Regions from separate parts of the Homo sapiens genome. Here all the other regions are reported to be linked to region 3. The links are microRNA targets in miRTarBase. Many come from high-throughput screens and were not tested one by one. Region 3 holds a microRNA gene; each other region holds the end of a gene's coding sequence.
What was found. Region 3 holds the annotated microRNA hsa-miR-4789-5p (GUAUACACCUGAUAUGUGUAUG, at 2,236-2,257, shown strand). A microRNA usually pairs through its seed, bases 2 to 8, with sites in the 3' UTR of a target mRNA and lowers its output. Matches are read on the target gene's strand: a 7mer-m8 pairs with bases 2 to 8, a 7mer-A1 pairs with bases 2 to 7 and ends in A, and an 8mer does both.

Region 1: the mRNA of SIK3 is a reported target of hsa-miR-4789-5p. Seed matches in the 3' UTR shown: 7mer-m8 at 1,606-1,612 and 7mer-m8 at 1,582-1,588.
Region 2: the mRNA of SPCS2 is a reported target of hsa-miR-4789-5p. Seed matches in the 3' UTR shown: 7mer-m8 at 2,899-2,905 and 8mer at 1,416-1,423.

What each region holds. Positions count from the first base shown.
Region 1 is chr11:116,843,084-116,847,083 of GRCh38, forward strand. SIK3 (SIK family kinase 3) reads right to left here. Exons shown (of 25, transcript NM_001366686.3): 24 at 3,300-3,470; 25 at 319-2,546. The coding sequence ends at 3,313. It also overlaps APOA1-AS. Among named protein-coding and RNA genes, the nearest start is that of APOA1, 7.5 kb to the left of the region's middle.
Region 2 is chr11:74,976,416-74,980,415 of GRCh38, reverse strand. SPCS2 (signal peptidase complex subunit 2) reads right to left here. Exons shown (of 5, transcript NM_014752.3): 5 at 1,383-3,559. The coding sequence ends at 3,373. Among named protein-coding and RNA genes, the nearest start is that of NEU3, 11 kb to the left of the region's middle.
Region 3 is chr3:175,367,317-175,371,469 of GRCh38, forward strand. MIR4789 (microRNA 4789) reads left to right here and starts at 2,224; the gene lies at 2,224-2,305. The region is part of intron 5 of NAALADL2 (N-acetylated alpha-linked acidic dipeptidase like 2); the gene reads left to right.

The sequences.
Region 1 (4,000 bases), not on the chromosome of region 3:
TCCCTTCTGACAGGGCAGAGTCCGAGCTGGGTGCCCAGGGACACAGTGTGAAGCAGAGTTCAGGCTTCTAGAGAATGCGAGTTTCTTAAGTCACTCAAAGCCCCACCCTTAGCCTGGGAGACCTCTCCAGCCTCCACTGCTCCAGCTCCCACCTACCTGAGGCTTCTTCCAACTAGACTCCAAACCACAGGCAAATAATCTATCAGCCTAAGAACACAATCAGGCTCCTATCTACACAACTTCCTGCTGTCCAACTAAGTAACCAAGTTGTAAGTAAGTGCCTCACAAAAGGAAGGACAAAAGGCAGGACAAAAGGTCTTAGCAACTTGAGTCTGGAGATTTTTTTTTTAATCCTTTTTAGTTCAACATAAAATGAGAAAGAAAAAAATATTTCTGACATTTTCAAAGAACAGAAATAGGAAAGTATGTTCATATACATTCAACGTATACTGCACATATTGGTTACTACAATACAAAGCAATGAGTTTTTTTTAAAGTGTAGTTTGCAAGATGGCACGGTTAGTAGGCTCACTGGCTTTCATCTGTTGTTGCTGGAGGGTGCAGTCTGCTCTCCCATACATACAGTACCATGTAAACACATCAGGCTGAGCGCGTGGTGGTGGTAGGGCAGGTTGGGGGCATAAGAGTTGGAACAAGCGCAGATAAGTCAACAGCTTTTTAGGGCTTTCTTGGTAAGCCCCCTTCTGGTGAGTAGTTGGTGACCCCACCAAGTGGAGGGGAGACTGGGGACCATGGAAACATGGGACAGCTCCCACGAAGGGCTCTTGCACTGCAGAATTCCACTCAAGGGATCTTGGGTCCAGGAGCCGAGCTGCCAGTATCAGTGGAGAAGGACAAGGTGCATGGGGATCCCGCCAGCAACATCAGGATGGCCATGCCGGGCACCCGCTTTCCTCTGTGCAAATTCAGGATGAAAGACTAGGAGGGGACTCGGGACCTCTTGCTCTCCTTTCCCAGAAAAAAAAAGGGTGGAAGAGTCAGTGTATTCAAGGTCTCTCTCTTGTTTTGAAGATCAGAAGGAGATAACCCAGACCCTCTCTCAGCCCCAGCCAGCAGAGAAGACTTTGGTTTCTAACAATGAAGAGAAATAAAGATAACACAAATAATAGCTACTGCGTATGCACTGCTTCAACTGGGGAAAGGAGACCACTGCATCTGTCACTGGCACAAGTAAGAGCTGTTCACAATTACAATGCCTAAAGGAAATACTTTGAACAAAAGGTGCAAGTCACAATTCAAATAGAACAGAATCTGGTTAAACATTTCTCATTTAAACAAAAATTCCTTTTCTCTTTATTTATTAATAATGATAATAACAATAATATCAACATTTACCAAAAACAATTTCTACATGATCAAGAATTAAAATATAGGGGCTGAGGGTACCCAGTGGGGAAGAGGAGGTTAGGAGAGAGGCAGGGCCCAAGGCAACCTCCTACACTTCTTCCCTGTGACAAAGAGGCTGAAAGAGGAGAGCATATATATATATATTTTATATATATATTATATATATAATATATATATAATATATTATATTATATATTATATATATAATATATATATACACATATATTATATTATATATATACACACATATATAATATATATATGGAGAAACAATCCTTTTTATAGCACAATATAAAATGAGAATGAAAGATGCCATAGAAAGCATAGTGCACTGCTGTTGGGTGTTCAGTCCATGGATAAAACCAGCAGGATGATAAAGGCAACCAACTTTCCAGGTTACAAGAGGGGAGCTGAGTTATCCACCAAAAGCAAAGGCTCAAATTGAGACATCCTAACTGGCAAACCATCTATGCCAGGTCATTCTCAGCCTCCGTGCCAAACTCTTCATATGATCTTGGCTAGGACAGACATGTTTTCCGTGGATCCCAGCAGTAAAGACCTCTCTGCGTTCCAGGCTTGGGGGTTTCTCTTTTTTTGTTCTTTTTGTTTTCTAAGTGCCAGAAGCCGTCACCCTTCCTCTCTCCCTTTGCCTGCCATTAGGATTCCAGAGGATGGCATCCTTTAGTATTTGCTTTCACAGAAGAGCAATGCAGGGGGATGGAGGGTGCTCTGCTGATGAAGGCTAGGGAGGGAGTGGCCCTGAGGCCGCTGGCCTCTGAACTCTAACTGCTTTGCTCTCCTGTTTCAAAAAAGGAACGAAAGAAAAAAAAGAAAGGAAGAAAAAAAAGAAAGTATATCACCTCTGGAAGAAAACATACCAAAAACAAAACAAAACACAAACCCCCAAACAAAACAAAAAACCACCAACTCAAATATACTTTCACAAAAGATGGAGAACATGGATTTCCTTCCTGTTTATTTCCTTGGTGACTTGGTCATACAAGCAAACATGGCAAAACCCTCTCAGAACCCAAAAGAACAGCACACGGATGAACCAAATGTGAGGAAAGCAGCTGTGATATTTTGGGTGGAGAGAAACACAAGGGCAATTTGGCACAACGCTGCTAGATACTGTGGGTTTACAATCAACCTTTTCATTCCCAAGCTGTACACAAAACCTGGAATAAAGCAGACACAGAGGAGAATTAGTTTGAAAAGAGAAAGGCTCAAATATTCCATTTAAAACCTTTTAAAAAATGCAACGGGTTTACTTTCCCTCAGGTGTTCAGGTAGCTTGCCATACTGAGGCTCTGATGTGGATTTGCCAAGTGGCTTCCCTTTCATCAGGCCTCTTCTGTCAAGGATTTTCCAGATACAACCAATGGTGCCTGCTGTGTACTCTTTGCATTACTCCAGCCAAACAAGCCAATTTCCCCATTCTTTCTACCATGGGCCTCTCATCACACATTTCCCTAATCTGGAATATCCTGCCACTTGCTTCTGTATGGCCTTAAAAAATATGGCTGGACATATTTTCCTGCCAGGTTTTGTCTTTTAGGACTGAGTTTAAGGACTTCCTCCTTTCCTCATTATGCTGACCGGAGGTCACCTGCATCCTCTGGAGCCGTAGCTCACTTCTGTCGCTATGAAGGCTAGAGCACCTGTAACACACGGCGAGTCTTGTGTCTTATTCCCATAACCGAACCAAGAGACTGTGTTTAGCATTTCTTCTGCACACCCCCACCCCTACCTCGCGCCCTAAAACTAGCAGCGTCGTTAATGAAAAGCAAGAAACTGTGAAGGCCACGAGGGGAGGCGTGGTACTGTCGACTGCACTGGCCACCACAACACATGGGCTGAAGCTCCTGATGGGATTGGGAGCAGGCACTGGGCCACAGGGCTGGTTTGGCTCTGGCCAGGGTGACACTCACTCTCTGTTTCTTGTTACACGCCTGCCTGCTCCATGCTGAAGGAGACTTCGGGGTGCTTGTAGCTGAGCAGAATGTCTGTAATACACGTAGATGGATAGCAAGAGGAGTTTAAATGCTGGCTGCCATCACTCAGGTCTGGGTGCTCATGACCTCCCAGGCTTGCCCCACATTCTGCAAGACCAAAAAGAACGTATGAGGTTGGCAGGGAACTGGGGGACTAGGAGAGCAAGGGGGAGAGAGAGGAGGAATTGAAGGCAACCTGTCGAGCATCCCACAGCCTGACTCCCAGCCCTGAATTCTAGCTCACAGCAGGCCCTCAAGGTGTTGAGTGACGATGGGCGGGGGCCAAGATTCTTCCTATATTCTCCTCTACCTGTTCTGCTTTTTTCCCTTTTCCTTTACCCTTTCCCATCCTTAGGTAAGATCAACTACTGTAGTGTGAGAGAAGATAGAGGACTCCTTCAGAAAGGATCACCTCTTAAAGAGTGAAAGGGAGAATAATTTTACTGCCTGCAGGCACCCATTCCTGGGCACTGTCTGTCTTCCAGACACTGTGCTAAGCACTTGATACTCACTAAGCCAGCCAGCCCTCAGGGCACAATGTAGGATAAAGGCTCTATCGTTTTTGCCACTTTACAGATGAGGATCTCGGGGTCCAGAAAGCCAAGTGCCTCACCTGCAGAGCCTGAAAAGGACAGCCT
Region 2 (4,000 bases), not on the chromosome of region 3:
GTGTGTATGCAAAGGGACTTTGCATCTTCTTCCATTCCCCGAAATTGTTCTGAAGCAAAGATTGTTTCTACACGTATATAAAAGCATGACAAACATTAAATACATATTAGCAGTTGAAATTTGCAAATAATGAAAAAACATTAGGATCTTTTTCCACTGTCCTCAGTGGCCCTCTATTTTCTAGAAAAAAGTCCGTCTGAGGTAAGTGTGAGGAACTGAGAACTTCACTCATGATGATGTGATGGGTGTCAGGGTTTCCTGGTGGCAAGGGTGTTGCAGACCTACTAGAGGGTACAGAGCAGCCCAGCAGCCTTCTGGACTGGGCTGAAATGGCCACTCAGTAGATGCATGTGTCAGAAGCTGGCCAGAGGCACTCTGCAGCTCTACAAAGTGTGCCCATGCTGAGGCTTGAGCCTGCAGAGGGTACTTTTTGTTCATGTGATGAGACACTCCTAAAATGCCACAAGTGCAAAGACAGGGGACCAACTGCAACATGTAGCTGGGCTGATAACCCACTTCTTCAACAAATCTAAACTGCTTCAACTGGTTTCTGGAGTCAGGGAAAAACCTTAAAATAGATCCATGTAGTCCAAGAAGTCTCCAGTGAGCCTTATAGGCAGATATTGGGGATATGGCACCCAACATTCTTTGTAATCATAAGGGATGTTTTTTATTTCCCAGGGAATAAGGAGTCTTCATAATCTCAAAATACATTCTCTAAAACTTTTTTTTTTTAACAAGAGACTTCACCCTAGAAAAGGAATAGGATGTATTCAAGGTCACAAATTAGAAAAAAGTTGCTAACAACCCAGGTTTCTTGTCTCTCATTTGAGGACCTATTTTCTTCCCCTCTCCTCAATCCATACTCCTTCCTGGAATAGTGAAAAAAACTGGGGAAAAATTATCATCAATAGGGTATTAAAGTAAAATCACTTATACTATGGAATATTATGTAGCTATTAAAAATGAGACTGACCTATGTGTATATATATATAGGGGTTATCACCCCAGCTACTTGTTGCAATTGGTCCCCTGCCTTTGCACTTCTGGTATTTTAGAACAGTTTCTTTTATATATATGTATGTCAGACTCTTTTTTTTTTCTTTTTTGAGACGGAGTTTTGCTCTTGTTGCCCAGGCTGGAGTGCAGGGTGTGATCTCGGCTCACTGCAACCTCCGCCTCCCAGTTCAAGCCATTCTCCTGCCTCAGCCTCCCAAGTAGCTGGGATTACAGGCATCTGCCACCATGCCCAGCCAATTTTTTGTATTTTTAGTAGAGATGTGGTTTCACCATGTTGGCCAAGGTGGTCTCGAACTCCTGACCTCAGGTGATTTACCTGTCTTGGTCTCCCAAAGTGCTAGGATTAAAGGCGTGAGCCACCATGCCTGGCCTCAGACTCATTTTTAATAGCTGCATTATACACACACACAGGGAAAATGCCTAAGATATATTAAGTTTAAAACACAAATTACAGGACATATATCAACATAATTCAATTTTTGTTAAAAAAAATGTATGTGGAGACACATGTTTGCATGCACATGTAAAGAAAAAGGCACAGTGGGGGAACTCTAAGGGATCATCATGGAGAGGGTTATTCAGTCTCTATCTGCAAGCCTCGAGACCCTTGTGTCTAACAGTACAGTTGGCCCTCTATATCTACAGATTTAACCAACCATGGATTAAAAATATATTTTAAAAAATAACAAAAAATATAAATTAAAAAACCAATGCAGTATAACTATTTACATAGCATTTACATTATATTAGGTATTATAGGTAATCCAGAGGTGATTAAAAGTATATGGGAGGATGTGTGTAGGTTATATGCAAATGCTATACCATTTTATATAAGGGACTTGAGCATCCTTGGATTTTGGTATGCTTGGGGATCCTGGAACCAATCTCCCACAAATACCAAGATGACTGTAACTCCTCCATTGTAAAAATACACTTATCCGGTTACATGCTTTCAAAAACTTTAAGAAGCTCACAGAGAATTCCGAAACTTACCCAAGGTTTACAGGAATGAAGAGTACAGAATCCAAGGCTTTAACTTTCTGTCCAGTGTTGTTCACAATTCCCTACCATGTGGTGCGAGATAGGACAACCTCTCCAAGACAAACAGGAAATGTGATAATGGTAATTTCTTACAAACTGAATATAGTGTTGGGTACTAGGCTCAGCCAAAATTGATGTTTTGTAAGGCTGTAGGGAAATATTCCTAAAGGTCAAAGGATCTTGGCAAGCACCCAGGTCTTCTCTGACCATACTGGGAAAATACTGGAAAAGCGGCTGTTTTGTCTCTGCAGGACCACAAACTCTGAAGCCGGACTCCCCAGGTTTGAATCCCAGTTCTATCACTAGCTGTGTGACAATTATTTAACTTTTGTATCTCAGTTTCCTCATGTGTAAAATGGGGATAATAACAGCACCTGCCTCTTAGGATTGCTGTGAGCATTATTAACACATGTAAAGTACTTGGAGCATTTCTGGCACAAAGTAAGTACAGAATGTTGTTATTATTGTTATTATCACTGGAAAGCTAAGAGTTCCTTAGCTACAGGTTCTCAGGGGCCTTTGACAAGTAAAATAGCCTAAAAATGAAAAAAACCTATAGTAGAAAGATGTTAACACTTGTTTCTCTGTTCTCTCCATCAAAACTATGACTCCATTTTTTTCACATCTTCCTTCCTTTTATTGAAAAAAATTTTAGAAAATGGCAGTTAATAAAAGGCACAAACAAATCAACAGGGATATACTAGTGGAAAACACAATATAAAACTAAAATGCCATTGGCTTCTTTAATTGGTTAAAAGCAAAAATGTAACAGGCAGAAAGTCTGTTTCAAACAAATTAAAAAGCTATGTGTTTTTTAAATTCTTCCCAAATCAGATATATACACACCCACAAAAATAGTGTGTGAAGGAAAGCTGTCATACACAAGAAGTTGTATCCTGAATTCTTCAAGGAAACACATATTGAAATAGGAATTAAGAGTCAGCAACAGATTAATAATTTTTTAAAATTGAGTCTTAAAATGCTACATGGCCCAAAGCTATACTATATAAAGTACTGCTAGGTACAAAAGAAAAAGTCTGTACAGCTTTTAGCAAAACTGCTTTCCCAGAAAAGCAAATTAAAATAATGCAATCAGCAGATCAAGGAGACTACAGCTAGACATCAGAGCTACAACTTCTCATATCTGTGTCAGAAAATCCTATTTACCCAGAATAGACTAAAATTTCAGGACAAAACAGGGACTTTTTAACATTTCTTACTTTACCCATTTTAAGTTCTTTTTATCTCCCCCACCCCCCAAGCCACTAATTCAGCAAGATCCAGGAGAAAGAGGGCTACTTTTAGAATTGGCTACTTTATTTTTCTTTCTATGGCAAGACTGTCATGGAGCCTGGATATTTCAGGCTCATATGCATCCATGACCAGTGTCCCACTGTGGTCAAAAAACTTAGCAATGGACTTTGTGAACTCGGCTTCCCGCTGCTGCTTTGTTCTCCCACTGATGAAGGTCAGCTTCAAGGTGTATTTGTCATCAAACCTAAGCATGGGGGCAAAGATAACAAATTAAAAACCAAACACAGAGATTCAACCAGTAACAATACGGCACCAAGTGTTTCCGAAGAAAAGGAGTAAGCTGGGCACGGTGATACAGGGAACAAACACATCCTTTAAAAGCAAAAGCAAAAACAAAACCCCAGGGCTCCTAACTTTTCAAGATACTAGTTCTGATTCTTAGGTGTTGACATATCTTTCCTACTTTAATTACTGTGTACCTCCTTTACCTTGTTGTAGACTTTTAAACCACGTGGACCATCTTCTCTCATCTCTGGACTTCGTATTTGCCATGCTAGACAGGTTTTCCTCGCAGACTCTTCTCCCCTATCTCACCTGAGAAGTTCTTATTTGTTAACACTATACTTGGGCATAAACTTTTCTGGGAAAGCCTACCAATCTGGGTCAGATGTGTTTCCTCTGTCTT
Region 3 (4,153 bases):
GGCTTAGGATTGACTTGGCGATGCGGGCTCTTTTTTGCTTCCATATGAACTTTAAAGAGTTGTTTCCGATTCTGTGAAGAAAGTCATTGGTAGCTTGATGGGGATGGCATTGAATCTATAAATTACCTGGGGCAATACGGCCATTTTCACGATACTGATTCTTCCTACCCATGAGCATGGAATGTTCTTCCATTTGTTTGTGTCCTCTTTTATTTCCTTGAGCAGTGGTTTGTAGTTCTCCTTGAAGAGGTCCTCCACGTCCCTTGTAAGTTGGATTCCTAAGTATTTTATTCTCTTTGAAGCAATTGTGAATGGGAGTTCACTCATGATTTGGCTCTCTGTCTGTTATTGGTGTATAAGAATGCTTGTGATTTTTGTACATGGATTTTGTATCCTGAAACTTTGCTGAAGTTGCTTATCAGCTTAAGGAGATTTTGGGCTGAGACAATGGGGTTTTCTAGATGTACAATCATGTTGTCTGCAAACAGGGACAGTTTGACTTCCTCTTTTCCTAACTGAATACCCTTTATTTCCTTCTCCTGCCTGATTGCCCTGGCCAGAACTTCCAACACTATGTTGAATAGGAGAGGTGAGAGAGGGCATCCCTGTCTTGTGCCAGTTTTCAAAGGGAATGCTTCCAGTTTTTGCCCATTCATTATGATATTGGCTGTGGGTTTGTCATAGATAGCTCTTATTATTTTGAGATACATCCCATCAATACCTAATTTATTGAGAGTTTTTAGCATGAAGCGTTGTTGAATTTTGTCAAAGGCCTTTTCTGCATCTATTGAGATAATCATGTGGTTTTTGTCTTTGGTTCTGTTTATACGCTGGATTACATTTATTGATTTGCGTATATTGAACCAGCCTTGCATCCCAGGGATGAAGCCCACTTGATCATGGTGGATAAGCTTTTTGATGTGCTGCTGGATTCGGGTTGCCAGTATTTTATTGAGGATTTTTGCATCAATGTTCATCAAGGATATTGGTCTAAAATTCTCTTTTTTGGTTGTGTCTCTGCCTGGCTTTGGTATCAGGATGATGCTGGCCTCATAAAATGAGTTAGGGAGGTTTCCCTCTTTTTCTATTGATTGGAATAGTTTCAGAAGGAATGGTACCAGTTCCTCCTTGTACCTCTGGTAGAATTCGGCTGTGAATCCATCTGGTCCGAAAATAGTTACATTTTACAAACGAATCTCTAACACATTTTGGTATCTTTTTTTATACTTTGAAAGGACTGTAGCAGGTGTGTGTGAGTGTGTGTGTGTGTGTGTGTGTGTTTATAGCCAGTATGTATATATGTAGCAAATACGTTCATGTGCCATTTAATAATGGAGATGCTTTCTGAGAAATGCATCATTAGGTGACTTCATTGTTGAGAGAACATCATAGAGTGCACATAACACAAACACATTGTGTAGCCTCCTAAACAACTAGGTTATGTCGTATAGCTTATTACTTCTAAGCTACAAACCTGCATAGCATGTTATTGTACTGAACACTGTAGGCAATTACAATGCAGTGGTATTTGTATATCTAAACATATCTAAACACAGAAAAGGTACAGCGAAATATGATATAAAAGATTAAAAAAAATTGCCACCCCTGTATAGGGCACTTTTCATGGAACTTGTGGGAGTAGAAGTTGCTCTGGGTGGATCTGTGAATGAGCAGTGAGCAAATGTGAAGGCCTAAGACGTTACTATGCATTACTGTAGGCTTTATAAACACTGTACACTTAGGTTACACTAAATTTGTTTTAAAAATTAAGTAATTGCACTAATGTCACAATGAGAACAATGCCACTAGAGTTTTTCAGCTCCACTATAATCTATGGAACCACCCTCATGTATGTGATTTGTTCTTGAGCAAAATGTCATCATGCAGCACCTGACTGTATATATATGTAGCAAGTATGTGTGTGCCTGTGTGCGCGTGTGTATATATAAATGTTACATTTACATACACCTGATATGTGCATGTGTAATTATATATGTAACAAGTATGTGTGTGCCTGTGTGCGTGTGTGTACATATACATGTTACATTTACATACACCTGATATGTGCATGTATACATATATAGGTAACAAGTATGTGTGTGCCTGTGTGCGTGTGTGTACATATACATGTTACATTTACATACACCTGATATGTGCATGTATACATATATAGGTAACAAGTATGTGTGTGCCTGTGTGCGTGTGTGTGTATGTGTATATATACATGCTACGTATGTATACACCTGATATGTGTATGTGTAAATACATATCCACACACATAGCAGGTGTATATATAGGTAGCCTGTGTGTGTGTGAGTGCATGTGTGTGTATGTGTAGCAGGGGTTTTGTGTTAGAACCAAGAGCTTGGAACTGGTACAATGAAAATATTTTGCCTGAAAGATATGCTTAGTAAAAGTCCCAAGTTTCACACATTTTTGAGGCTCAAAGTGAAGAACTCAAAGTGAATTATTAGGTAATCATATCTACTTCTTCCTAAACCCTTCATCTGATTGTGTGCTAAAATTTAATACTAACTGATCTTTCCATCTCCATAAAATTCTTTGAGATAACAAAATCCTACATTCCGGTTTCTGAAGGATGGTATTCTGCAAATGTGAAAGTTTCCCTTAACCTCCAAAAAATAATTGGGTTAATCCAGCTACCACAAGTGTGAAATTGAGAAGCTGCTTGCTAAGATTGAATTTAATATTGTCACATGTCATCTGAGAGCTGCTTGTCTGATCATGTTGCCACTGGACAAAGTAAGCCTTACTACAAAGGATAAAAGAATGATTATTTCAATATCCAGTCATAGTTCATCATCAAACTCTGAGTAAAATGGAGAAAAAAAGACGTTTTATCTTATATGACTCTATGCATTTCTCTGGGAAGTCATTTATCTGGTTGCTATCCAGGAGAGCAAAGATAATGGGAAAAATCTTCCACTATTCTCAACTATAATTTTAAATATCAAATTTTAATAAAATAGGTTTTGGTTATTTCTTTTAAAAGCCCTCAATATAAGAAAATGAAATGTTAGAAACTTATTTTATAAAATATATTTGTGAACCATAAAACCCCATATAAAATGGAAATTATTATCACCATTAACTACTGATGCTTCTAATCTTATTCTGTAATGGTTAAAAAATGACTAGAATTTAGAGTTACTGCCAATATATGGGGGGGGGAGGGATTTTATAAAAATAGCTTTATTCATTTGCATGTTAAGCAAGAGTGTGATTACTGATGGCCGTAAGAGTCACTTGCTGCTTTAAGCTCTGCTCTGCTGCTGACTCTACATGTGTAGCTTTGAGAGGTCCTTTAGCCCCTCCAGCTTTCCACATAGGCAGGATGTGGCTATTGTACTTGATGATATGCCAAACATGCTTCTGATTCCAACATTCGATGGTTCTGTGATATTTCTACCTTATTACAAAAGACATTCACTTTAAAAGTATAAACACCGTAGTAACTTTTTTTCTTTCATTGTTTTCAATAAAAGGGTAATGGAAGTAAACTGACAAGTTTAGGAGGCTTTCAGAGCATAAAGGAGAAAGGCTGGCAGCTCTTGAGAACCTCTTTGCTTTCAGCTGAGAGCAAGTAGAGAATGCTTGCTCTCTGGCCCTGAATGTCATAACATTATGTTCAGAATCATTGAAATGTCTGACAACACTGTTGATTAAAAATGAGAATCATTAGGCCATGTCTGCCGTTATAGGATGAAGGGTAGTTTGAACAGTATGGAAAAAAACTATCCCAAAAGGATGATTTGTCTTAGACAATATTACCAAAATTTCAAATTATACTATGTATAGTAATTTGCAGTAATTCACTTTTTTTTTATATTTAGCTTCATCTTAAAAGTTCTCCTTCATTGGTAATGCTTTGAAAAATGCTGGATTTAGAATTATGAAGAGACTATCAACTAATATTATGGATGATATTATTATTATTATTATTTTTTGAGACGGAGTACTCGCTCTTTCGCCCAGGCCGGACTGCAGTGGCGCTATCTCGGCTCACTGCAAGCTCCGCCCCCCGGGTTCTCGCCGTTCTCCTGCCTCAGCCTCCTGAGTAGCTGGGATTACAGGCGCCCGCCACCGCGCCCGGCTAATTTTTTGGATTTTTAGTAGAGATGGGGTTTCACCG